Homo sapiens: one gene and its partners. The protein of the gene in region 4 interacts with the protein of the main gene of each other region in a biochemical or structural test. Each region holds a gene or a part of one and is shown on either strand. Other genes may lie near its edges. The genes, in order: GIPC1, PDLIM5, MYO18A, SLCO1C1, CNKSR3, SHROOM4 and LIMK1.

What was found.
Region 1: the proteins of SLCO1C1 (region 4) and GIPC1 interact in a test that uses a peptide from one of them, tested with the Homo sapiens proteins (one large-scale study listed by IntAct).
Region 2: the proteins of SLCO1C1 (region 4) and PDLIM5 interact in a test that uses a peptide from one of them, tested with the Homo sapiens proteins (one large-scale study listed by IntAct).
Region 3: the proteins of SLCO1C1 (region 4) and MYO18A interact in a test that uses a peptide from one of them, tested with the Homo sapiens proteins (one large-scale study listed by IntAct).
Region 5: the proteins of SLCO1C1 (region 4) and CNKSR3 interact in a test that uses a peptide from one of them, tested with the Homo sapiens proteins (one large-scale study listed by IntAct).
Region 6: the proteins of SLCO1C1 (region 4) and SHROOM4 interact in a test that uses a peptide from one of them, tested with the Homo sapiens proteins (one large-scale study listed by IntAct).
Region 7: the proteins of SLCO1C1 (region 4) and LIMK1 interact in a test that uses a peptide from one of them, tested with the Homo sapiens proteins (one large-scale study listed by IntAct).

The regions. Positions count from the first base shown.
Region 1 is NC_000019.10:14,489,628-14,493,127, forward strand, and holds part of GIPC1 (PDZ domain-containing protein GIPC1), read right to left. Parts: intron 3,290-3,500; exon of another isoform or gene 3,286-3,289; 5' UTR 3,230-3,285; intron 2,117-3,229; 5' UTR 2,029-2,116; intron 1-2,028. UniProt on the Homo sapiens protein: May be involved in G protein-linked signaling.
Region 2 is NC_000004.12:94,573,942-94,577,441, reverse strand, and holds part of PDLIM5 (PDZ and LIM domain protein 5), read right to left. Parts: intron 1,827-3,500; coding exon 1,408-1,826; intron 1-1,407. UniProt on the Homo sapiens protein: May play an important role in the heart development by scaffolding PKC to the Z-disk region. May play a role in the regulation of cardiomyocyte expansion. Isoforms lacking the LIM domains may negatively modulate the scaffolding activity of isoform 1.
Region 3 is NC_000017.11:29,072,399-29,075,898, forward strand, and holds part of MYO18A (unconventional myosin-XVIIIa), read right to left. Parts: intron 2,517-3,500; coding exon 2,372-2,516; 3' UTR 1-2,371.
Region 4 is NC_000012.12:20,701,832-20,705,331, forward strand, and holds part of SLCO1C1 (solute carrier organic anion transporter family member 1C1), read left to right. Parts: intron 1-3,500. UniProt on the Homo sapiens protein: Mediates the Na(+)-independent high affinity transport of organic anions such as the thyroid hormones L-thyroxine (T4), L-thyroxine sulfate (T4S), and 3,3',5'-triiodo-L-thyronine (reverse T3, rT3) at the plasma membrane.
Region 5 is NC_000006.12:154,392,186-154,395,685, reverse strand, and holds part of CNKSR3 (connector enhancer of kinase suppressor of ras 3), read left to right. Parts: 3' UTR 1-3,500. UniProt on the Homo sapiens protein: Involved in transepithelial sodium transport. Regulates aldosterone-induced and epithelial sodium channel (ENaC)-mediated sodium transport through regulation of ENaC cell surface expression.
Region 6 is NC_000023.11:50,629,195-50,632,694, reverse strand, and holds part of SHROOM4 (protein Shroom4), read left to right. Parts: intron 1-3,500. UniProt on the Homo sapiens protein: Probable regulator of cytoskeletal architecture that plays an important role in development. May regulate cellular and cytoskeletal architecture by modulating the spatial distribution of myosin II.
Region 7 is NC_000007.14:74,086,804-74,090,303, forward strand, and holds part of LIMK1 (LIM domain kinase 1), read left to right. Parts: intron 1-3,500. UniProt on the Homo sapiens protein: Serine/threonine-protein kinase that plays an essential role in the regulation of actin filament dynamics. Acts downstream of several Rho family GTPase signal transduction pathways.

The DNA of each region.
Region 1 (3,500 bases), on a different chromosome or scaffold from region 4:
GTTCAGCAGAGAAACCCATGTCCTCTCTCCATAGGGCCTGTTTTACTATGATGTAAAAATTAGGTCATGTACATTTTCATATTAGACTTTTTGTTAAATAAACTTTTGTAATAGTCAAAAATGTTTTTTCAGATGTTCTGAATATACAATATTAGCTCTCATTCCAATTTTTTCTAACATGAATTTTCCTGGTTGACATTGATTTCAAAGGGTTTTATGTATTAAAGTGACAGAATCTTATTAAATGTGAAACATGGCAAGGAGAAAAAAAAAAAAAAAGAAACTCATGCTAAAATTTGATCCCCAAAGTGGTGGTGCGGTGTTGGGAGGTGGGGCCTAGTGGGAGGTGTCTGTGTTATGGGGCCAGATCTCTCCTGAATGGCTTGAAGTAGCTCTGGAAGCAATGAGTGCTTGCTCTCAAGAGCCCGGATTAGTTCTCCAGAACTTACAGTAGTTGGCCAGGTGCAGTGGCTCACACCTGTAATCCCTGCACTTTGGGAGGCCGAGGCGGGCGGATCACGAGGTCAGCAGTTCAAGACCAGCCTGGCCAACATGGTGAAACCCCGTCTCTACTAAAATTACAAAAAATTAGGCCAGGCACGGTGGTGGGCACCTGTAATCCCAGCTACTGGGGAGGCTGAGGCAGGAGAATTGCTTGAACCTGGGAGGTGGAGGTTGCGGTGAATCAAGACCGTGCCATTGCACTCCAGCCTGGGCAACAGAGAGAGACTCAGTCTCAAAAAGAAAAAAAAGAAAATACATTAGTTAGGCCAGGAACGGTGGTTCACGCCTGTAATCCCAGCACTTTGGGAGGCAGAGGCAGGCGGATCACCTGAGGTCGAGAGTTCGAGACTGGCCTGACCAACATGGAGAAACCCCATCTCTACTAAAAATACAAAATTAGCTGGGTGTAGTGGCACATGCCTGTAATCCCAGCTACTAGGGAGGCTGAGGCAGGAGAATCGCTTGAACCTGGGAGGCAGAGGTTGAGGTGAGCTGAGACAGTGCCATTGCACTCCAGCCTGGGCAATAAGAGCGAAATTCTGTCTCAAAAAGAAAAAAAAGGCCAGGTGTGGTGGCTCACGCCTGTAATCCCAGCACTTTGGGAGTCCAAGGCGGGTGGATCACGAGGTCAGGAGATCGAGACCATCCTGGCTAACACAGTGAAACCCCGTCTCTACTAAAAATACAAAAAAAATTAGCTGGGCGTGGTGGCACACACCTGTAGTCCCAGCTACTCGGGAGGCTGAGGCAGGAGAATGGCGTGAACTCGGGAGGCGGAGCTTGCAGTGAGCCGAGATCATGCCACTGCACTCTAGCCTGGGTGACAGAGCGAGACTCCATCTCAAAAAAAAAAAAAAAGAAAGAAAGAAAGAAAGAAAATACATTAGTTAGGCCGGGTGCAGGGACGGTGGCTCCCGCCTGTAATCCCAACACTTTGGGAGGCCGAGGCGGGTGGATCACCTGAGGTCAGGAGTTTGAGACCAGCCTGGCCAACATGGTGTGAGCCAAAGAAGGCTGGTGTGAGCCACTGCGCTCAGCCTATATTTTCTTATGTAAAAGGGACTTCCTGGTGCCTCCTATCCAATGGTCTCTTCCAGGGGGCCATGCTGGATTCAGCTTGGCCGCATCCAATCTTTTTTTTTTTTGAGATGAACTCTCACTCTGTCACCCAGGCTGGAGTGCAATGGCGCGATCTCGGCTCACTGCAACCTCCACCTCCCAGGTTCAAGCGATTCTCCTGCCTCAGCCTCCTGAGTAGCTGGGATTACAGGTGCGTGCCACCACACCTGGCTAATTTTTGTATTTTTAGTAGAGATGGGGTTTCTCCATGTTGACCAGGCTGGTCTGGAACTCCTGACCTCAGGTGATTCGCCCACCTTGGCCTCCCAGAGTGCTGGGATTAGAGGTGTGAGCCACTGCACCCAGCCTGCACCTAGTCTCATGTATCCATTTGTTCATGCATCCATTCGTCTGTCCCCTAACACACCCTCTCATCTCACCTGGTCCATCTCCATGATCACTTACCTAAACTAGTGTGGTTGCCTCCTGTGGGTTTCCCAGCTTCCACCCTCACCCCCTACGACTTCTTGTCCAGACAGCAGCCAGAATGGTCCTGTAAAACATAAGTCATGTCGCATTTGTCTCTGCTCTGACCCCTCCCCGGGCTCTGACCTCGCTGGAAAGAAAAATCAGTGTCGGCCGGGTGTGGTGGCTCTCGCCTGTAATCCTAACACTCCGGGAGGCCGAGGTGGGCATGAGCCACCACGCCCAGCCATATATTTTCAAAATTAGCCAGGCGTGGTGGCGGGCGCCTGCAGTCCCAGCTACTCGGAAGGCTGAGGCAGGAGAATGGCATGAACCCGGGAGGTGGAGTTTGCAGTGAGCCAAGATCGTGCCACTGCACTCCAGCCTGGGTGACAGAGTGAGGCTCCATCTCAAAAAAAAGAAAAAAGAAAAGACCCCTCATCATCCCTCCAATTCCGCCAGCTCTACGCACTGGGAGGCAGGAAACTAAAAACATGAATCTGGAACCTGGCTTCATCTCTTAATAGCTGTGTGACTTTGGGCAAGGGTCTTAACCTCTCTGAGCTCCAAGGAAATCATGCATGTGCTTGGAACAGTCCTGGCACACAATAAGGGTTGCATAAATATTGGTGACAATTACTGCTACTGCCATCTTTTGTTTTTTTTTTTGAGACGGAGTCTCGCTCTGTTGCCCAGGCTGGAGTGCAGTGGCACGATCTCAGCTCACTGCAAGCTCTGCTTCCCGGGTTCACGCCATTCTCCTGCCTCAGCCTCCCGAGTAGCTGGGACTACAGGTGCCCGCCACCATGCCCAGCTAATTGTTTGTATTTTTAGTAGAGACGCTGTTTCATCATGTTAGCCAGGATGGTCTCGATCCCCTGACCTCGTGATCCACCTGCCTCGGCCTCCCAAAGTGCTGGGATTATAGGCGTGAGCCACTGCACCCGGCCTTGCTACTGCCATCTGTACCAAGATTCAAGCTTCCTCCTTTTCCCAAGATCCCTACATCCTGACCACCAATTCCCAGCCTCCTTACTCTCTCTCTCTGCCCACCCCACTGCCCTGGTTCATGCCAGCTTCCGTGTCCCCACCCGTGAGGAGGCATTAACAGCAGTGAGGAAAGTGAGTGAGTAATGAATCTGCCTGCCACGGCCATAAGAGGCTTCGTGGCCTGGGTTCAAATCCCACCCCTGCCACTTACCAGCTGTGTGGCTGGGGGGCAAGTCACTTCACATCACAGGGCCTCAGTTTCTTCATCTGAAAAATGGGTGGAATTCCTGTCACTCTCAAGGTGGTTGTGGAAATCCAAAGAGATTACCCACGTATCCCATCTACACTCTGCCTCAGACTCCATTTAAGGACGCTGTTGTCATTACTATGGGTGTCTCCTCCTCTGCCCTGCCCTGCCCAGGAATATCCCAACCCTCTCTGCCTGCCAATACCTACTCCAGGCCCACTCCTCCATGAAGCCT
Region 2 (3,500 bases), on a different chromosome or scaffold from region 4:
CCTCAAGACCGTATGTACAGCCCAGGAGCTGTTCTTCTAGAGCTCCTGCTCTCCCTCTCTCAGCAGCAGCCTGGAGTTTTGCCACCTTCTCTTTCAAAGCCCCAAAGTTGCCATGGCAGCAGTGCTACAGAAAGCACAGCCTCTTCATTACAGGAATTAACATTCAGAAGGGATTATCTCAGAGAATGGACCTATCCACACAAGTATTTTAATTATATTTTCCTGGGAACTGGCATTGGTAAAAACCATCAGGCCTGTAGACTATTTCCCTTTGTCTTCCTTTTAAGGTACATTTTTGTCACAATAAATCTGATAAAAATGATTTTACATAAATGACTGCCTTAAAGTATCATCCCTGAATTCCAAAAGCAATAAAATGACCATCATTATTCTCTCTCTTTTCTTTACTTTTTTCTTTGCAAGTAGGATTACATTATAGAAAAGAATTATTTTTAAAAAAGATACTGTACATAACCTCTCACGGCCAACTTAAATCCTTGCTCCTCAACATAAATTTCTGACTATCTGATAACATTATATTTGAACCGAAAGTGTTAAAAAAAAATAAACAAATAATTGAAGGTTGCTGAAAAACAGATGTGTGATCTTATAACTATGTGTAGTTCAAATAAGTTAATAACTTCAACCAATTTTTTTAATAAAAAGATACCCCCAAAAGGGAAAAACGATAAGAAACAGATTTTCAAAGTGTTCTGCTAACATGTATGTTTAGTGTCCAATGGCTTAAATTTACTCATTTCAGAAAACGTTTACAATGAAAGTATTTTATAATTTGCTTCTAATGCTTTCTAAGCGTGCCTTGTTGTTTCATTACTGTCTGCTTTTAAAGAATAAATTCTAACTTAAACTTATCTGAAAACAATGTTGTTAGCTCTCTGCTCTAAGCTAATGCTTCACATATAGACATGAGTCAAAAGCGGACTGGTTTTCCTAAGATTACCTCCTAGAAAAAAAACCCCTTACAAATTCATGATTTCCCCTCTCCTTACGATGAGTTGTGTAAGGTGACAGCAACTGTAACCACTGTTTGAACTTTTGGTGGCCTATTTAAAAGAATGAAAAAATTGAGGAAGAAAGATTCAAGATTTGCCTTGCATTACAAGTGCCAGCTGCTCAATGCTGTGTCGGGACTTACAAAAAATGAGTTACAGAGATGTTACATGGTTCAGAACATGTCAAAATGCACAAGTAGCTTTTGAATAAGTGATAATTGCTTTGCAGAAAGTACCCTATGTATATAAAGGCCATATGTTAATGAGGCAAATAATACTTCATCTCCCTTCCTTCAAAGAAAGTTGGTTTTGGGGGAGAGGAATGTAGAGTATTTCCTGGAAATTACCTGAAAGAAGAGTTTTAGTAAGAGCAGAAAGCACCTTAGCCACCTACCCATTTTGCTGTTTACTGTCACCCTGGGATCCTCTTCTCTGTCCCTCTGCTAGCTCCTGAGAAGTCTCGGAACACACGCTGGTGACTGTGGGCTGCCGTGGGACATTAACTGCAGTTTTACCAGCGCTCAGTGCAGATGGAGACTGGTCAGCACTAAGATTGGCATTAGCATGCAGTCCAGATGCAGCGAACAGGGGAGGAGTGACGGCAGCCACGGGTGAAGGGGAAGCATGTGATGAGGTGGTCGCATGGGCTGGGGTGAAGGCAGACGATGGTGATGGGATGGATGTGACTTTTGGTGAAGACACAGAACCAAAAGGCCGTGGTGCCTTATTGTAGGCCATGTTGTTTGTGGAAGTGACTTTGGACACAGCAGGAGATGTAATGGGCACAGGTTTAACTACTTCTTTAGGTTCTCCCTATGTAAAACAAAAATAAACATACACAAAACCACACCAAACACATGCAAAATATATTTCACCGAAAAGAACACAGAGCTGATTTTTTAAAAGACAAACACAATCAGGTTAGCAGCTCAAACATCATGTTTCCAGATAAAAACAATGGGCTGATAAAGCATAACGTGCATGCTAACTAGTCCCAACATGCATAACACAGATGCACACATTAGGTATAATTTTTAAAAATAAAAATGAAAGTAGTTTCAAAATATTTCGGAAATACAGCAGGAAAACTATCAGAAAGCCTAAAGCCCCTCATCAGTGTCAACCTAGGCATATTCCAAAGGAAAAATGTTTAAATACCCTACAATAAACAAAACATTGCTAACTGAGGTGTTTTTTATGTTAAAATATCCAAAGCCCATCTTTCCATCTTTCAAAGCCCATAGTCCCATTTTTCAAACATGTTTCATTTCTCTCCAGAGTGGAATCATTTGTTTCACGCAGAAGGAGCAGCACATTTCTAACTCTTTAAGTTTAAAAAAACAAAAAACACAGGGAATAAGATAATTTTCACCTAACTCAGGAATGTGCAAACTCTAATTAATAATCTTAAAGAATTTGAAAAAAAAAAAAAAACTTTAAAAAAGCAAATAAAACAAAATCCTTTCTTTCTTGTAATCCACCTCCATTTCTCTCTCTGAATGTTTTAAGATATGATTCAGAGATAGAATAAAATTCTTTTCCTTTTCCAAAATAAATATTTAATAGTTACATGAAGAAAAAAAAATCTTCAATATTTCCCCATCGTCAGCAGCCAAAGAAAAAACAACTAGTAAGAAAGGTCAATTCCTCCTAAAATTACCAGAATTTTTATTTGCCAATCCTTATTCCAAAGCATATTTAAAGTTAAACAAAATCAGACTAAGCTTCTACAACATTCAAGAATAAATCCCAGGAGGCGGGATAGCTCAGAGGTAGAGCGTTAGACTTCAGATCAAGAATAAATCCCTATTCCACCCTACCATATCAAAAGAAAAAATCAAATTTTTGAAAAATCATACAATGGTGGTTCTACTGTTTAATTTTAAGAAAAAAGGTAATCTCAATTCATCTTGTTTTTTTTTTTTTTTTTGAGACAGGAGTCTTGCTCTGTCACTGAGGCTGGAGTGCAGTGGTGTGATCTCAGCTCACTGTAACCTCCACTTCCCGGGTTCAAGTGATTCTCCCACCTCAGCCTCCTGGCTAGCTGGGACTACAGATGCGTGACACCATGCCCAGCTAATTTTTGTATTTTCAATAGAGATGAAGTATCACCATGTTGGCCAGGCTGGTCTCAAACTTCTGACCTCAGGTGATCCGCCTGCCTCGGCCTCCCAAAAAGATGGGATTACAGGCGTGACCCACCGCGCGCAGCCTCAATTCATCTTATAGGAAGAAGAAAACTAATTGAGAAAAATAAGTAGCTTAGTGCCCACACGAATCAATACAGGTTGAGTATCCCTTATTTAGACAGCTTGGGACCAGAAGCATTCAGATTTCAGATATTCTCAGATTTTTGAATCTTTGTAGAATGCAGGAGCATCCCTAATCCAAGAATCCAAAATCTGAAATGCTGCAATGGTCATGTGAGCATGTCAGTGTTCAGAAAGTTTGGGATTTTGGAGCATTTTGGATTTTCTAATTAGGGAT
Region 3 (3,500 bases), on a different chromosome or scaffold from region 4:
TCTGTTAAGTCCCAGCTACTCGGAGGGTTTAGGCAGGAGAATCGCTTGAACCTCGGGAGGTAGAGGTTGCAGTGAGTTGAGATCATGCCACTGCATTCCAGCTTGGGCGACATAGCAAGACTCTGTCTCCAAAAGACAAGTAACTTCCCTTTTACTATTGTTTCTATCCTCTTCTCTGTTCTATCGTGGGGCAATGGAGGGGGCAGTCTCTGTTCGAGACAGATCCACTTCACACTCTGTCCCATTCATTTTGGGGGAGACTTTTCTCCCTTCTTCCCTTTTGGACTCTTTCTGGATGGCTGACATTATCAGAGCCTCGGCACTTGGGCTGTTTGCTATTTTTTCCCACCCATCTGTCCAAACTACTTTATTCATTCAGGGATTATAACTGGCCACACTACAGAATGAGAAGGTAGAAGGTAGAAGAGGAGGAGGGGTGTCATTTGTTTCTTGCCTTTCTGCATGAGCTGCCTCTTAGCTGTCAATGAAGGAACAAAGCATGGAGTAGGGCATGAAGACAGGGACCGAGCAGGGCAGAGACAGCACTCCCAACCTATTCACATTGCCCTGTGGGCCCGAGCTAGTTCTGCCAAGTTTTGATCAAAAAGTCACCTTTGAAATGGCTAAAATTAAGCTTTTAAAAAATGTTCTAATGAGAAGGGCTTGAATCCAAAAAGAAAGAGAATGAAAGAAAGAAAGAGAGAGAGAGAGGGAGAGAGGGAGGGACGGAAGGAGGAAGAGAAGAGAAGAGAAGAGAATCTCTGTAATTGGTGAGATTTAACAATCAGAGGGACCTCAACATTCCCTTGTGGAGGCTAGGGAGGATGAGGCTTGGAGTCTCTGCCACCCTTGCTAACCTGAATCACAGTCCCTAGGCTCTTCACATAAAAGGTGGGGCTTGTGTCTTCCTTGGCCAATCCCCTCATTCCACTACCTCTGCCTGCCCCAAAATGAGCTGCCTAGGCTCTTTAAGTGGCACTGGTCTGACACTTTGGGGAGCAGGCCAGAGACCAGGGTGATGCCCTCACGGTCCCCATCAGAATCCTGCCTCTGCCCACCACCCCCAGGACCAATCCAGACTTTGCCTGAGCCTGAAGGAACAGGCAGGAAAACTGGCGCAGCCAGGAGGAAAAGGGCCTTTATTTCCATACATCGGGTAAACAGGGGAGAGCACAGCCCAGTGAGTACAAACCAATTGCAGGAGAGAAGGGGGGCGGCAGATGGGAGCAGCACCAGGCACTGCACTTGGGCTCCCAAGTCTGGTGGAGTTCTCAGGGATAACCTTTTTAGGGTGGGGGCTGGGACCTCCAGACCACATGGTGTTGTGTCTGGGATAAGTGTGTGGGGGCAGGGAGGTTGGAAGAATGACACGGGCTCAGGACACAGAGTGAGGACTCATGTCTAATGAGCACCGGCCAAAACTTCCATCTTCAGTTTTTCTGATCACAAGTCCTCAACCCCAAGCCTTCCCTCTCAAGTTGAGTTTATGGTCCAGACCACCTGGACAGAGCAGGAGGGAGGCAGTGCTTGGATCAGCCCTGAACTGCTGTAGTTGGAATGGGTTTACCTTAAATAGGTCATTGCACATAACACGCTGAGACAAAGAGGGTGGGGTGGGGGCTGGAGGTGCGGATGGTCCACACACACACTTGTCTGCGTAGGCTTGCTCAACCCAGCCCAGCAGCACCGGAGAGCCCCTCCGCACCTCATTCTTAAGAACCTGGACCCGGCTCTCCTCACCAGCGTCTCCAGCTGCACAGAGAAAGGACTGCTCTCTGAAGGGTGAAGATGGAGATGACATTCCCGAGTCGTTCTTGGGAGCCCCAGCTACCACTACAGCCCCCTCCCACTCTCAGGGATGCAGCTGTGATGGAGAGGTTGGGTATTTAAATTAAAAAGTAGAAAGACAGCAGGCACCAAGAAGAGAGAGCCCCCACCCCACACGAGAGGGAAGGCACTGCTTCTCCTCCCCCAATCCTCCCCATGGACCCAGCAACCTAGAGTGTCCCAGTAGGCAACCTGTCCACCGTCCCTGAGCAGGGAGCTGAGAGGGAGGTCAACGTGCTGGCTCCATGCAGTGCCAGGCCACCTGCCACTGCCCACGGTGACACAGGGTAGAAGCCAAGAGTCTGGCATTTTGAGACAGAGGAGCAAAAAGTTCTCTTCAGAAACTCCTCTTTCCCCCACCTCTTCCACGTGGAGACATCAGACACCCATAGCCTGGAAAGTGCCCCTGACAGAAGAAGGTCAGGGTGTTTCCCATGCAGATCAGCAGTCGGGTGGGGGAGACCGGTGCCCCACCACTTCCTGGGAGAGGTGCCCAGGCAGCCACAGGCCCTGGGGTGAGAGGGCTGCCAACCACTCCCCTGGGCTATGCGTTAGTCTCCGTCAGCTTGGCCTCTGTGTCGCTGTCACTCAGATAACTGTGGGAGTATCGCGGTCTGGAGGTGTTGTCGAGAGGGTCGTGCTCATCATCTGACCGATCAGGGGCAAGGGACTTCCAGTAGCTGGTGGGGCTGCAGGGACCGAGGAATAAGGTTAGGGACAAATGACACTCCTACCATTAAGCACGCACGCCTTTGGTTCTGGAGGCCCACAAAGCTGCGTCAGAGCACTCCCCAAAAGCCAAACATTGTTAAGTAAAAACCTTCCTTGGCTTACTTAGAAGATACTCAAAATGCTAAGAGGAAGGAGACTCTGGAAGCTTTTAAAGCTCCGAGGAAAGGGATGCTGAGAGCAGTGAGTCTCGGACTCAAGCGTGCATAAGAATCTGATGCAGGTTCCTGGGCCCTTCCTCTTAGAAACCTTGAATCGCTGGCTTTTGGGTACAACCCAGTAATTCTGCATTTTCAGTCCTTCCCCAGAAGGCTCTGAAGCAGGCAGTCCGTGAACCACATTGGCTTGGAGACTGGAGGTCTGGTGAGTACAACTTGTCTAGGGTAGGGGCTCTCTTAGGCGAGTGATTCCTAAAAAGATTCCTTCTGAGGAGGAGGCGCTTTCCCTGTCAAATACTCCCAGATCTGAACCCTTTCCCCTAATGATGGCTCCCTGAGGCCTGTGAGAATTTTCAGCTTTGACCATGCCATCATCTACTAACAAGAAATGGAGGCTCAGGAAGGAGAGGCTGGGAAGACCTGTTTTAGGATGGCCCAAGGGGAAAAGCCCCTTTCTTGGTACAATAACATAACTCAGAGTCTTCATCAGGCCTCTGGCTCTGGAGGCCTCCAGCTATCCCAGATGTGAAGAGGCCTCTTCCCCCTGATGGAGCAGGATCACAGCACTGAACAGGGAAGAGGGGACCTCATCTCACAGCTCCATTCACCTTCTCTTTTCTTTCTCCCAAAGCCTTGGGGCCACCTTTCCCGTACTCCTCCTGCCTCCACTGCCTCCGTCAGTTCAAGTGCACTCTCGTTTCAACACCATTGGAGAAAACACAGCCCAGTGTGGCTCCTCTCCTACTGATGCCCCACACTCGGCGTGGTCCCTGGAGCTGCAGCCCT
Region 4 (3,500 bases):
GTGTGGAATAATCCAAATGCGCTCTACAAGAATTTACTGCAATGATGAATAGAAGTTACATCATAAAAGGGATTTTTCCACCCAGTGGTCTAGAAAGAAGAATAAAGGGATTCTATTACCAAGAACACAAGATCAGAGCAGGCAATAAAAATTCAAATCTCAGGTGCCTTTGGTTAGCAATTGACTACAGACTCCTTAGAAATTAAAAAGATCGAGTAATTTGAGTCACTGTTTTAGAAGTAATTTAAAGAGGATAATCCTAGTTAGTCTGCTTCCTGAATTGATAAACTAAAAGGCTTTAATTTTTTGCTGAAGTAAACGAAATAGTACCCTCTCTGGTCCTTAAGGCTTGTTTAGATTCAGATATACACCATAGTAAAACCTCTAACTGCTCCAATTTTAGCTTTACCTGGTGAACTTTCAGAAAAGTGAATAAATATTTTTCAACTCTTTAACAATTTATTTCTTTTCATACATACTATGTGTTTTGGTTCTTACTCTGAATATCACAGAAAAAATAAAATGAATAAGTAACCTTTTGCCTTCAGGCATTTGCTTCCCAAATTCATCTTTTGTCATCCTTCCAGAATGACATTTCTTAGTGCCAAATTTTAATGTCCACACAAATAACTGGGCAATCTTTTAAAAATCTTTTTTTAAAACCTGAATTGGTAGGAACAGGATAAAATTCTGCATTTCTAATAAGCTCCTAAATGATACTGATGCTTCTAGTCAGTAGATCACATTTTGTGTAGCAGGTTTCCAAAACATCTGATCACATCAATCTTTTATGTAATTTGCTTAGATTGGCCCGGATGGTTGATTTATTCCTTGAGCCCTGTTCTACTGATGGCCCTGCACTGAGTGAAGGGCCAAAGAGAATCAAGGTAAAGGGTGATACATTATATCATGAGAGAAAAACAAGGAGAAAGAGGTAACTGGTGCAGATAAAAGAATAGAGCAGATATGAGCAGGCAAAACATTATATATCATGATGTTTTGATGTTTTTCTCACTCTAGATTATTATATAAAAATATTTTAGAGCTGAAGAGGCATAGAAATGATTTGGTCCAAAGTTTTGTTTGGGCTCCCAGGTCCTGATGCAACTTGAGAGACAAAGTTTATATTTGATAGAGAGAGTATACTAAGTTTTCACAGGAAGTAGCAGAAAACCATGACTCCAAATTCACATTAATTCTTCCAGACCATTCTAGGTATATAAATTATTTATTGGATTGGATGCCTTAAAATGGCTTAAAAGTTCTCTTACTTCCATTGAAAACCTTTATCCCAAACATCACAGGTTTGCCCTAATTATTTGAGTTACATAAATTTCCAGACAAATGACTTCGCTGAACATAATCTTAATTTACTTCTTTTGCCTCTTTTTGCATTCCTTCTTTTCAAGATTCTAGAACAAATATCATCCTCCGTCTTTATGTTATTTGTATGTGGCAACTTTGTTGAAATTCTATTAGTTTTAATTGATTTTCCATGGAAACTGTAGAGTTTTGTGGACAAATTGTCTAAAACAAAATATAATTTCGTATCTTTCTTTGCAACTCTTAGATTTTTGTTGTTGTTGTTGATATTACCTTATTACATTAGCCTCAGAACTGTGTTGAAGAGAAGCATTTACAATGGACATCTTTCTCTTGTGTTTGACCTTGATGCAAATACTTTTAAAATTTTAGTATTAAGCAATATGCTTGCTTTGTGGTTTTGATAGATACACTTTAAAAGCTGGTTTGCTCAGATTTGTTTTTTCCTAACATAAATCAATGGTTAATTTTATTTAGTACTTTTACAGTGTCTATTAAGTTAACCATGGAATTATTCCCCTTCCATTTGTTATATAGGGATTTAATTAATAATTTATTGTTAGTTGGTGGTACTCTTGTACTACTATAATGAACTGCGCTTGGTTGGGATATTTTTATTTGTATATACTATTCCGTTTGCTAATAATTTGTTTAGGATTTTTACATCTATCTTCATAATCAAGTTTGGGCTCTAATTGTCTTTTCTTATATTGTCCTTGTCCAGTTTTGGTTTTAAGAAAATAGTAGTCTTACAAGATGAATTGAGTAGCTTTCTTTTTTTTCTGTTATCTCGAGTGTGTCTGTGTGTGTGTGTGTGTGTGTGTGTGTGTGTGCATAGACAGACAGAAAAAGAGAGGAGAGCAAGAATATGTTACTTTAAAGTTTGGTAAGACATATTTCTAAAACTTTCTGTACCTGTTTTTTTGTGAGAGGCTAATGATGGTAGATATGGAATAATTTTTATATCCAATTTCATTTTTTAAAGATTTTGTATCATCATTTATATTTCAAATGTATCTCCTGACAACTCAGAAAGGATACTAAGGAAGCAAAAACTTTGATAGATACAGTATATATATGGTATATAGATATATATATATATCTGTATTACAGGTACTGAACTCATATTGTCTTGTATATGACATGCCCATTAACGTAACACAGAAATAGCTTGTAAACAGAAGTGTTTATTGTGTGGTATTGGTGGAGTGTAGGCGAGAATAGGAGAGAATTACCTATAAAGTGAATGTCAACTTTCATTTTATGTTGGTTCGTTTATTGTGGTACATTAACAAACATATAGATAGAATTATCAAAATAATATGATACACAATGTCTTCTACTAAATACTTAAATTTCAAATGAGACATCTTGTGCTAAATTATTCGTTTTTTAATATGAACATTAAGAAGAGCTTAATTCTTCTTGGAGCCATAAAGACTAGGACCACTGTGCAAGTCATGTTTCTCACTATCATTCTTATTATCCTCAAGCCCACAAAAATTACTGCTTTATTTCCAGTTTACTAAAGCTGGCAATGTGCGTGAACAGTAGTAAATTAGATGATTGCTTACAGATGTAGGGAAACATGCTTTGCTCAAAAATTGGAAATGAGGAGAACTTCAAAGCAAGGCCACCCATTAGCCATCACAATCAATTGCTGGGAAATTGTTAAGATCTTACTGTATTTAGCATGGTACATCTTAAAAACTAAATATCTCAAATAAATATAGCTAAAGCTTTAAAGCCCCTTGAAGTCTAAAACCCTAAACAATGTTTATCAAAGCATGTTCTAGGAATCATCTCCATCAACACACTTGAGTTAGTATTACAAATGCAGATTTCTTGGCCTGACCTCAGATCCATGGAATCAGAAACGTTTGGTACTTGCCAAGAATCGCATTTTTAACAAGTTTTCATTTCCTTAACCGTTTCCTGTCAGTATTTTTACGCACAGCAAAGCGTGAGAAATATTACTTGAAACATGTTTAATCACTTATCACCATCATCAACTAAAAGTAACGTGTCACATGCTTCATTAGAGACATTTTAGAAAACCATAATTTCTACTTTCAAAAAAACCCAATATTTTTAAACCATTTTTCACAAAAGAGATAAATGGGCACATTTTATAGAGATTTTGTATTTCATAAAATTTGCTTTATAGGCATATGTTG
Region 5 (3,500 bases), on a different chromosome or scaffold from region 4:
TCCCAAGGGGTTGAGTGGTAGAACCACTGAGAATATTGTTGCTGCTCTTTTGGAGACAACAAACTGCATTAATAAAAGTCTGAGAACAAGAAAGTTGAGTTTTCAAGTAATGTCCTTTGCATATTGCTACATAGGGCTCATCTGAGTCTGTGATGTTCTACTTTGTTGATGAAAGAAAACAAGTGGAAATTCTGCTCCCCCACACATCCTGCACTGCAAAAAGATAACAAGTAGCAGGAGATACTCAATTATGATGCAGTTCAACAAAGAAAACAAATTAAAATAAAGAGATCCTGGGTGGTTAAATACAGAGTCTCCTTTGTAAACAGCAATGGATGATGATGATGACTGTTACCAGGGCTCTGTATGATCATTTTCCCAATTCTTTGGAGTACTTTTTTCAAAAGCACTCTTGTAGAATTAACTGGAAACATAGACTACCCTTCACTCATTACATGGGAAATGGGATTGAATTCTCTTCTTGGCAATGGAAAATACTTGATGCATGCAAATAAGAAAACTCTTACTTTTTCCTTCTCTCCTTGCAGGGGGAGCACGCGTCCTAAGCTTGCCAGGAAGCCCTGCTCTCCTGCCCTGGGCACCTCCGTTCCACTTGACCTTTTCCACCTGTACTCCCTGCATTTTGGTCTCTTGCTCTGGTCTTTAGCCTTCGCATTTTCCTGATGCAGCCCAAACCAGTCACCTCTCTCCTAGATTCATTCTCTGTGCTCAGACCATCTCTTTCCTTTAGTTCCTGTGACGAAAGAAAATGTATTTGGCCATTGGAGGTATAAGCAACAAAGAATCCAACCCACACAGCTTTATATATGCAGGTTCTCTATATGCTCTTCTTGTGAACAGCGTGGGGAGAGGAAAATAGACTTGGCAAGAGGACTAAGAACAGAATCGGACAGTTATCTGATGGCTTTCCTAAGGTTCAGGAAAGAACAGTGGTCCCTTTGTTGGGCCTTTCTGTTGTTTCTTTGTTTTCAATTTCACTGATTTCTGCTTTTTATTTTCTATTTTCTTCTGTTTCCTTTGGAATTCTTCTTTTTTTTTTTTTTTTTTTTTACTTCTTGTATTAGGCTCATGCTATAACAAACAACCCCCAAATCTCAGTGACTTTACACACTAAGAGTTTACATTTTCCTCATCAACGTCCACTTTGGATGTTCCAGGTTGGGTAATGCTCTGTGGCTGTCCTCTAGCTAGTGACTCAGGGACTTGGGTTGCTCCTGGTGTCTCCAGCGTGGTTATGGTGTCTCCAATTTTGGACTTCAAGGTGACCCAGGCATTATCCACCTGGTAAATTGGGAGATGGGTCCCAGGAAAGTGAATACTCAACCAACCTGGCCTAGAAGTGACAATAATAAGGCCATGTGTGGTGGCTAACAGTCAGAAACCCAACAATTGGGAGATTGAGCTGGGAGGATTGCTTGAGACCAGAAGTTCAAGACCAGCTGGGCACCATAGTGAGACCCTATCTTTCAAAAAAATATAACAACCAGGCTTGGTGGTGTACACCTGTGGTCCCAGCTATTTGGGAGGCTGAGGTGGGATAATCGCTGGAGCCCAGGAGTTTGAGGTTACAGTAAACCAGGTTTACACCACTGCACTCCAGTCTGGATGACAAAGCAAAACCCTCATCTCACAAAAGAAAAGAAATGACAATCACAGCCACTGCAACTTCAAGGAAGGTTGGGAGAGTGATATTGGTCAGGATGAGTGGTCTCTGACATGTTTCTTAAGTTGGATATTTAGCTTATTAATTTACAACTCTTTTCTAATATTAATACTCAAGACTACATTTTCCCCAAAACATTTATTTTGCCATGTTTTGCAAGGCTTGGTATATGGCATTTTCATTACTCTTTAATTCTAACTAATTTTTAATTTCTATTATGATTTATTATTTGATCTATGAATCATTTTGAAATTTGTTTTTGTAACCTTGGATAGGGAAAGATTTCTTATAGAAGACAGTAAAAGGGCTGAGTACAAAAGAAAAGACTAATAAATTCAGCTACGCTAAAGCTTAGAACTTTTCCTCATCATAGGACACCTTAAAGAAAATTTTTAAAAAGTTACAAATTGGGAGAAGATTAAAAAGTCCTAAGGGTTAGCAGTAAGAATATATACATATAATTATTACAAATTGGCAAGAGAATGACAAATCAACACAAAAACGAGCGAAAAGGCATTTTGCAAAAGAGAATCAGATGGTCCATATGCATGTGAAGCGATTTTCACTAGCGAGCAGGGAAAGTGAAGTCAAAATCACAGGGAGATGCTGCTCTCTACCTGACTGGCAAAACTGAAATGATTAGAAAATACTTGGAGGATATCCTAGAACGATCAGTGGGATCTGGTATATTATGTGTATGAGGTTAAATTAGCAGTGAGTATTCACATACCCTATGACTCAGCAGTTTCATTCCTAGATATATATCCTGGGGATTAGAAACACTAAGTAGGTGGGTGCAGTGGCTCACACCTACAATCCCAGCACTTTGGGAGGCCAAGGCAGGTGGATCACTTGAGGTCAGGGGTTCGAGACCAGACTGGCCAACATGGTGAAACCCCATCTCTACTAAAAATACAAAAATTAGCCAGGCGTGGTGGCGGGCACCTGTAATCCCAGCTACTTGGGAGGCTGAGGTGGGAGAATCGCTTGAACCCCGGAGGTGGAGGTTGCAGTGAGCTGAGATTGTGCCACTGTACTCCAGCCTGGGCGACAGAATGAGACTCCATCTCCAAACAAACAAACAAACAAACAAACCACTAACTACCTCAGAGGACAATGCTAACATTTCAAAGTGTTCTAGAAGTTGGTTTCCCAGAAAAGAAGTCAGGCTCTTGTGGAGCTCCATGGAAACTGGCAATGACCCATGACTTAGGGCAGTGAAGTCTCATCAAATGCAAGGCTTAGACCCCATTCTGCTGCTGCCGTCAGGGGAGGCAAGGGCTCCTTGTTCCCCAAACATCGATGCTAATGAAGCAAATCCTGCTGCTAGTTTGCAGTGTTGCCTAGCTGCAAACACAACCTCTGATGATGCCAATAGAGAGGCTGGTGCCTCCTTCATCATAGAGCTTACAATCCCCACAAGGTTTCGGGACCCTCTTTTGGATTCTGAGGGTGGGCTCCTTTAGCCATCTGTTTAGTGCCCCAGATGAAATTGACAGCAGGGGACCTGCACTCCTTCTACTGCTTTTTCTCAAGGCATCCCCAGCAGAGGGTCTCTAGGGTGCCTGTTATGTGTGCTGTTTGGCCATCTGCCTTTGTAGAACACAGCCCAATGTCTGTTGGCAAAAAAAGGTTTACATGTGGTATATTCTTACCATGGAATATTCTGCAGCAAGTAAAAATGAATAAATTACAGCTATTCATATCAAAGAGATGGATTTTATTAATATAGTGCTGAGTGGGAAAAAGCATCAGAAGACAACATATAATGGTACACTCTTTTTTTTTTTTTGAGATGGAGTCTCTCTCTGTTGCC
Region 6 (3,500 bases), on a different chromosome or scaffold from region 4:
CTTATTGCCTCCCATTTTCTACTTCAGAAGTATTTAGAGATGCAAAACTTGCAAATATCCCCAGGCTTTGCTTTCAGAGATCTGACTTGTTGGGTTTTTAAAAAGACAAATCCTTTCCCCTTTCTCCATCCTGTCTCTGTTGGAGACCCAGGTCTAAACTGGCTGCTCTTATATCCCGGTTATGACCTATTACCATAACACAAGCTACCACCATCCCCCAGGCTACTTCTGGGAGGACTCCCTAGGTCCTTGCCTACTCACTGCCAGATTACTTCCCCATGGCATCCCTGATGCCATCTTTTGGCCGGTGCATTCAAACCAGAAGTTAATTCCTGTGTTCAGCTGTTGCATACACAGACACTTTTGAAATGACTTAGTATCTGAATTTGCTCAATATATATCCTTGGTAAAAAGGAACTTCAAGGGTGATAGAAGCCTTACACAAAAGACTATGAACTCTACAATTCCTTTTATATGAAATTCTAAAACAGCTATTCTATGGGGGAACAAATTCAGAACACTGCTCGCCAATGGGAGGTGGCACAGAGATTGACTGGAAAAGGGCAGAGGGAACTTGTGGGGTGGTGACAATGTTCTATATCTTGGTAAGAGTTTGAGTTAAACATATGTACCTGTCAGAACTCAACAAATGTATAGCAAGGCTCCTAGACAGCCAATGCACTTAGTATTTGTGCATTTCACTGGAAGTAAATTTTGCCTAAAAATGTTGTAAACAAATATTAAACTTTATTTAATATGTATGCTGAAGTGTGTTTGAAGTATACTGCTGTATTCAACTTATGTTTTCAGCATACAAATCTTGTACATATTTTGTTATATTTGTCCCTGAGATTTTATGAAAGCGCCGAATCCTAGCCACCCAACCACCAGGGATATTTGTCCCTAAGATTTTATGTTTTTAGATGCTATTATAAAGAGTATTATTTTCTTAATGTCAAGTTGAAATTCTTGATTACTAGTCTATAGAAATATAATTGAATTTTGTGTATTGACATTGTATCCTGCAACCTTGCCAAACTCACTTATTAGTTCTAATAGCTTTTTGGTGGATTATAAAACATTTTCTACATACACAATCATGCCATCTCCAAATAGAATTTAGTGTCTTCCTTTCTCCTGTACATGCCCTTTTCTGGGAGAGAGAAGAGCCTTATTGCACTCTCACCTTCAATACAATGTTTGGAGGAAATGGTAAGAGTGGACATTGTAGCTTTTTTCTTAATCTTTGACTATAAAGTTTGATGTTAGCTGTAGGATTTTTTTGTAGGTGCCCTTTAATTGAGGAAAATCTCTTTTATTCTTAGTTTACTGAGAGTTTTCATCAGAAGTGGATGTTGTATTTTTTTTCAAATGCTTTTTCTGTATCTGTTGAGATGATCATATAGTTTTTCTCTTTTAGTCTACTGATGTGGTGAATGACATTGATTGATTTTTAAAATAAATAGAAGCCTAGCATTGCCAGGATAAATCCCACTTGGTCATGATGTATTATCCTTTTATATGTTACTAGATTTGCTAATATTTTGTTAAGGATTTTGCCCTTATGTTTATCAGGGATTTTAGTCTATAGTTTTATTATAACATCTTTTTCTGTTTTTTGTTTTTTTTGTTTGTTTGTATCAAGGTAATGCTAGCCTTAAAAAATGAGTTGGGATGTATTCCCTTCTCTTTTATTTTCAGGAAGAGTTTGTATAAAATGTCTTCCTTAAATGTTTGCTTGAATTCATCACTGAAGCCATCTGGGCCTGGAGGTTTTTTGGTAGAAAGCTTTTTAACTACAAATTCAATTTCTTTAATAGATTTGGGGACATTTAGGTCATCTATTTCTCCTTGAGTAAGCTTTAGTAGTTTGTGTCTTTCAAGAAATTTGTCCATTTCATTTACATTTTAAAATTTATGGGGATATAGTTGTTTTCAACTTACTTTAAAATGCACCAGGATTTTAAGATGGATTGGTAGATGGATAGAGGAGTAAATGGATATATGATAAGGCAAATATATCAAAATGTTAATTGTAGAATCTAGGTGCTGGGTATATGGGTGATCACTGTGAACTTCTTTCAACATTTTTGTATGTTTGAATATATTCATAATGTTGAAAAAAAGAGGAGAGGAAATATAAAATAATGGTTTTAAGGGCACCGAAGCTGGAACCAGACTGCCTGGTTTTGAATTTCTTCCCCCGAACTTACAATGCCTAAGCTTTCCCATCTAAAAGCATGGGGGTAGTAACAACACCTACTTCATAAGTTGGTTGTGGGGATTAAGTGATGTAACACATTTAAGACTCAGAGCAGTGACTGCCAGATTGTAATCATCTTATAAGTGAGTTATCATCTCTTAAAGGGACATTTTGGCTTAGCTTGAGAGACTTTTGCTGGAAGAAGGACTCACAGATAGACAGTAGACAAAGGGGGCTGAGATTGGGGGTGAGTGGGGCGGGGGAAGTGAGGAGATGACGGCTGCAGCGGTGTCAGCCCAGGACCAGCAGCTCTATAAGAGATGGAGGTACGATTTGCAGGTTGCAGCAATTGGCAGCAGTAATGCATGCGGGTGAGGCTGTGCCTACACCATGCCTCTATTTTTTGTACTCTGAGGGAGGGATACCTTGGGTTCCTAATGCTTGTTAGACCAGCTAAGCAGGTCTGCTTAGATACTAGGCATTCCGACACGTGGATGGCTGCCTAGGAGACACCACATGCCCATTTCTGCCCATCATCTGAACCTTCCACTCCTACTCCACCCCCCTCAAGAAATGGGAAAAACTTGCAGCATGGGTTAAGATGCCATCGCTCTGATGACTCAGGTACTTGTGGTGGTAGCTATCTGAAGTAGGGCTGAGATCCTGCTCCTAATGCCCCTGGACGAGGTTGGTGAACTAATTGTCTCCTGTTCAGTGCTGTGAAGACTGAAATCAGCATGCACTCACGTCCTTCATACCAGCTTGTTTTTCATTCATTGTCAAATTATTTCACTTACCAATTGTATGGGATAAGTTATAATAGGATCTCCCATTTTACAGCTGAGGAAGCTGAGAAAGCCAAGGCTCAGAGAGGTCACACATCTAGCAAGTGGCAGAGCCAGAATTTGAATAACATGACAGTAACTAGCATCTCAGTGTCTACTGGGCACCAGGTACTATTCTAGATGCTTTACATGTATCAAGTCATTGAGTTCTCAAGCAATATTATTATCGTGATTATACTATTATATAGTTGGGGAAACTGAGATAAAGAGAAGTTGAATGGCTTGCCTGAGGCCGCAAGTGAAAGGCAGGTGTGCGATTTGAATCCATGCTATCAAGCTCCAGAGGCCAAGCTCCTGACTGTGCTACACTGCCTCTCCATAAGCTGATTGCAAAGCCCAGGCCCTCTCTAGTGTGGCCGGATGCCCTCTAGCAGTATCACTTCCACTGGGACAGCAAGTTCCCATCACAATCTCCATTTGCAGCAAGCGGTGGGGATAACTGCCTCTTTGAT
Region 7 (3,500 bases), on a different chromosome or scaffold from region 4:
GTGTTCATGCTCTTGCAGGGAGGGAAGACAAACCAGGCCTTAAGGGAAACCAGGCCACCCTCAGTGTCTTCCAGGCTGCTTGCGAACATGCATAACCCAGTCACACCAGCCCCAGTGTCCAGACACACACCCACAGGTAGGAAGAAAGTAGGGTCAGGGTTGTGGCGGAGGATAAAGAGTACATGAGGACCTGAAGGTCACCCAGTAGGACCATCCTGAGAAGCCAGGAGCAGGGGTCTACCTGCCTTGAGCCAGAGCAGGGCCAGAGCAGGGGTCTCAAAGGATGTGAGATTTCCTGGGTAGAAAAGTAGAGTGGAGGTGGGGCGTGGTGGCTCACACCTATAATCCCATCACTTTTTGGGGCTGAGGTGGGCAGATCACTTGAGTTCAGGAGTTCGAGACAAGCCTGGGCAATATGGCAACACCCTGTCTCCACTGAAAATACAAAAAATTAGCCGGGCGTGGTGGCGCATGCCTGTAGTCCCAGCTACTCAAGAGGCTGAGGTGGCAGGGTTACTTGAGCCTGGGAGGTGGAGGCTGCAGTGAGCTATGATCGCACCACTGCACTCTAGCCTGGGCAATAGAGCGAGACCCAGTCTCAATTTTTAAAAAAGAAAGAAAGAAAAACAAATGGTGTGGGAGAGAATTACAGGCATAGTCACCAAACAGCAAGGTTCAGGGGAGAAAACTCCATAAAAGGGTAGAAGGTGAAGCTTCTGGGATGCCCAGCAGGGGTCAAGACATCCACCACTAGGACTTTATTTTAGGCTTCTGCCTTGGTTTATTTTTTGGTTTTTGGTTTTTTTGAGACAGTCTTGTTGTGTCGCCCAGGCTGGGGAGCAGTGGCGCGATCCCTCCTCACTGCAACCTCCGCCTCCCAGGTTCAAGCGATTCTCCTGCTTCAGCCTCCCAAGTAGCTGGGATTACAGGTGTGCACCACCACGCCCGGCTAAGTTTTGTATTTTCAGTAGAGATAGGGTTTTGCCATGTTGGCCAGGCTGGTCTCGAACTCCTGACCTCAAGTGATCTGCCCGCCTCAGCCTCCCAAAATGCTGGAATTACAGGCATGAGCCACTGCACCTGGCCTCGGTTTGTTTTTTTGTTTCTTCTTTTCTTTTTTTTTACACAGGGTCTTGCTGTGTCACCCAGGCTGGCGTGCAGTGGTGAGATCATAGCCCACTGTAGCCTCCAGCTCCAACTGGTTCAAGCGATCCTTCTGACTCAGCCTCCCAAAGTGCTGGGATTACAAGCATAAGCCACCATGCCCAGCCTGTTTTTTCTTTTTTAGGAATAACGTCTAACGTTTTCTAACATTCAGTAAGGGACAACCCCTGTTCTAAGTACTTTGCATAGTTAGATATTAGTGCTGTCTTTGTTTTGCCAGAGAGAAAATTGGGACACAGAGAGGTTAATTCTCTTGATGAAAGTCACACAGCCAGTGAGTGAAATGAACACACTCAGTGTGGCTGAAAGGAGACAGACAGCATGCCCTGGGATTCTGCATCAGGTGCTCAGAAAGAGGCCTTCGGGGGGCAAGAGGGCTCTCAACAGGCAGAGGAAACCATCTGCACAGCGGTGGGATGGTGCGGACTGCTGAGGGAACAGGAACAGTTCCCTTGGAAGGAACAGAATAAGCTGAGGGATCCAACAAGAAACAAAGTTGAGACCGATTCGTGAAGGGCCTTGAATGCCAAGATAAGGAGTTTCAGAAGTCAGGATGGGGGTGGTGGCTCATCCCCGTAATCCCAGCACTTTGGGAGGCCGAGGCAGGCAGATCACTTGACCCCAGGAGCTTGAGACCAGCCTGGCCAACGTGGTGAAACCCCCGTCTCTACTAAATATTCAAAAATTAGCCAGGCATGGTGGCACATGACTGTAATCCAAGCTACTCGGGAGGCTAAGGAAGGAGAATCACTTGAACCTGGGAGGCGGAGGCTGCAGTGAGCTGAGATCACGTCACTGCACTCCAGCCTGGGAGACAGAGCGAGACTCCATCTCAAAAAAAAAAAAAAAAAAAAATAGAAGGGAGTCGGCAGAAAGCCAGGGAGGGGCTGGGGTGACATGCTGTTGAAGAATGCCATCCCAGTGGGCCGGTGGTGGTATCTAGGCAGGGAAGGGACTGTCCCAGTAACTCAAGGGTCTGAGCTCATAGGACCTGACCTGGGACAGTGACTGAGGATGGAGAGAATTTCAGGCAGAAGGGACAGTTTTTGGTGAGTATTTGTCATATTGGCTACCATGCATTGAGCACTCTTCATGCTAATTTGTTAAATCTTCATCATAACTCTATGAGGGACTGTATGTGCCCAGTTTGCATGGGAGAAACAGAGATTCCATGCAATCAAGTGCCTCGCTGAAGGTTGTAACATCTAGAGCTGGGACTAAAACCTTCTCACTCCACATCGCCACAGAGTAGGAAAGGCAGGGGCTGGCGGTGGCACATGCCTATAATCCCAGCCCTTTGGGAGGCGGAGGCAGGTGGATCTCTTGAGCCCAGGAGTTTGAGACCAGTGTGGGCAACATAGTGAAACCTTGTCTCTACAAAAAAATTAGCTGAGCATGGTGGTGGTGCCTGTAGTCCCAGCTACTCAAGGGCGCTGACATGGGAGGGTTGCTTGAGCCTGGGAGGTGGAGGTTGCAGTGAGCTATGATCACACCACTGCAAGCCAGCCTGGGTGACAGAGTGAAATCCCATCTCAAAAAAAAGAAAGAAAGGAAGAAAGAAAAAGACAGGGGCTTCGGGGAGGGCATGGGCACTGGCGAATGGCAGGGTGGAACCTGAAGCCATCTGGTTTTCTAACCTGGGCACTGGGGAGTTGGTGGTTTGTTGACTCTGATGGAATTGGGGGTCATGTTGGGGAGGAGACATGCTCATCTGTGTTGAGCTGGAGGGGACATGGGCTATCCATGGTGGCTGTGTCCTGCCCAGAGCTAGCCATGGGAGCCTGAGTCCAGTTGGAGGTAGGAAAGTCAGAAAAAACGGCCGCCTCGGAGCTGGCCCTGAGATGGTGAGTGGGATTTGTGATAGGGCCAAGACGAATGAAGGGAAGAACTTTGGGGACCCCTGTGTCTGCGGTGAGGGGGGAGATGGAGCCTTGGGTGATGGAGAGAGGGTCAGGAGTAGAGCCACAGAAGCCACAGGAGGGAAGCCGTGTTACAGGATGGGTGTACCTGGCTTTGGAGTGGCCTGTCCCAAATCACTCACCAGGAGAGGGGTGAGTCCCCAGGTCAGGGCAGTAAAGAGGAGGCATGTTTGTGCTGTCCCTGGTGTAGTGAAACTCAAGAAGGAAGCCAGGTGCAGTGGCTCACGCCTGTAATCCCAGCACTTTGGGAGGCCAAGGCAGGCAGATCACCTGAGGTCGGGAGTTTGAGACCAGTCTGGCCAACATGGTGAAACCCCATCTCTACTAAAAATACAAAAATTAGCCGGGCCTGTTGGTGGGCGCCTGTAATCCCAGCTACTCAGGAGGCTGAGGCAGAAGAATCGCTTGAACCCGAGA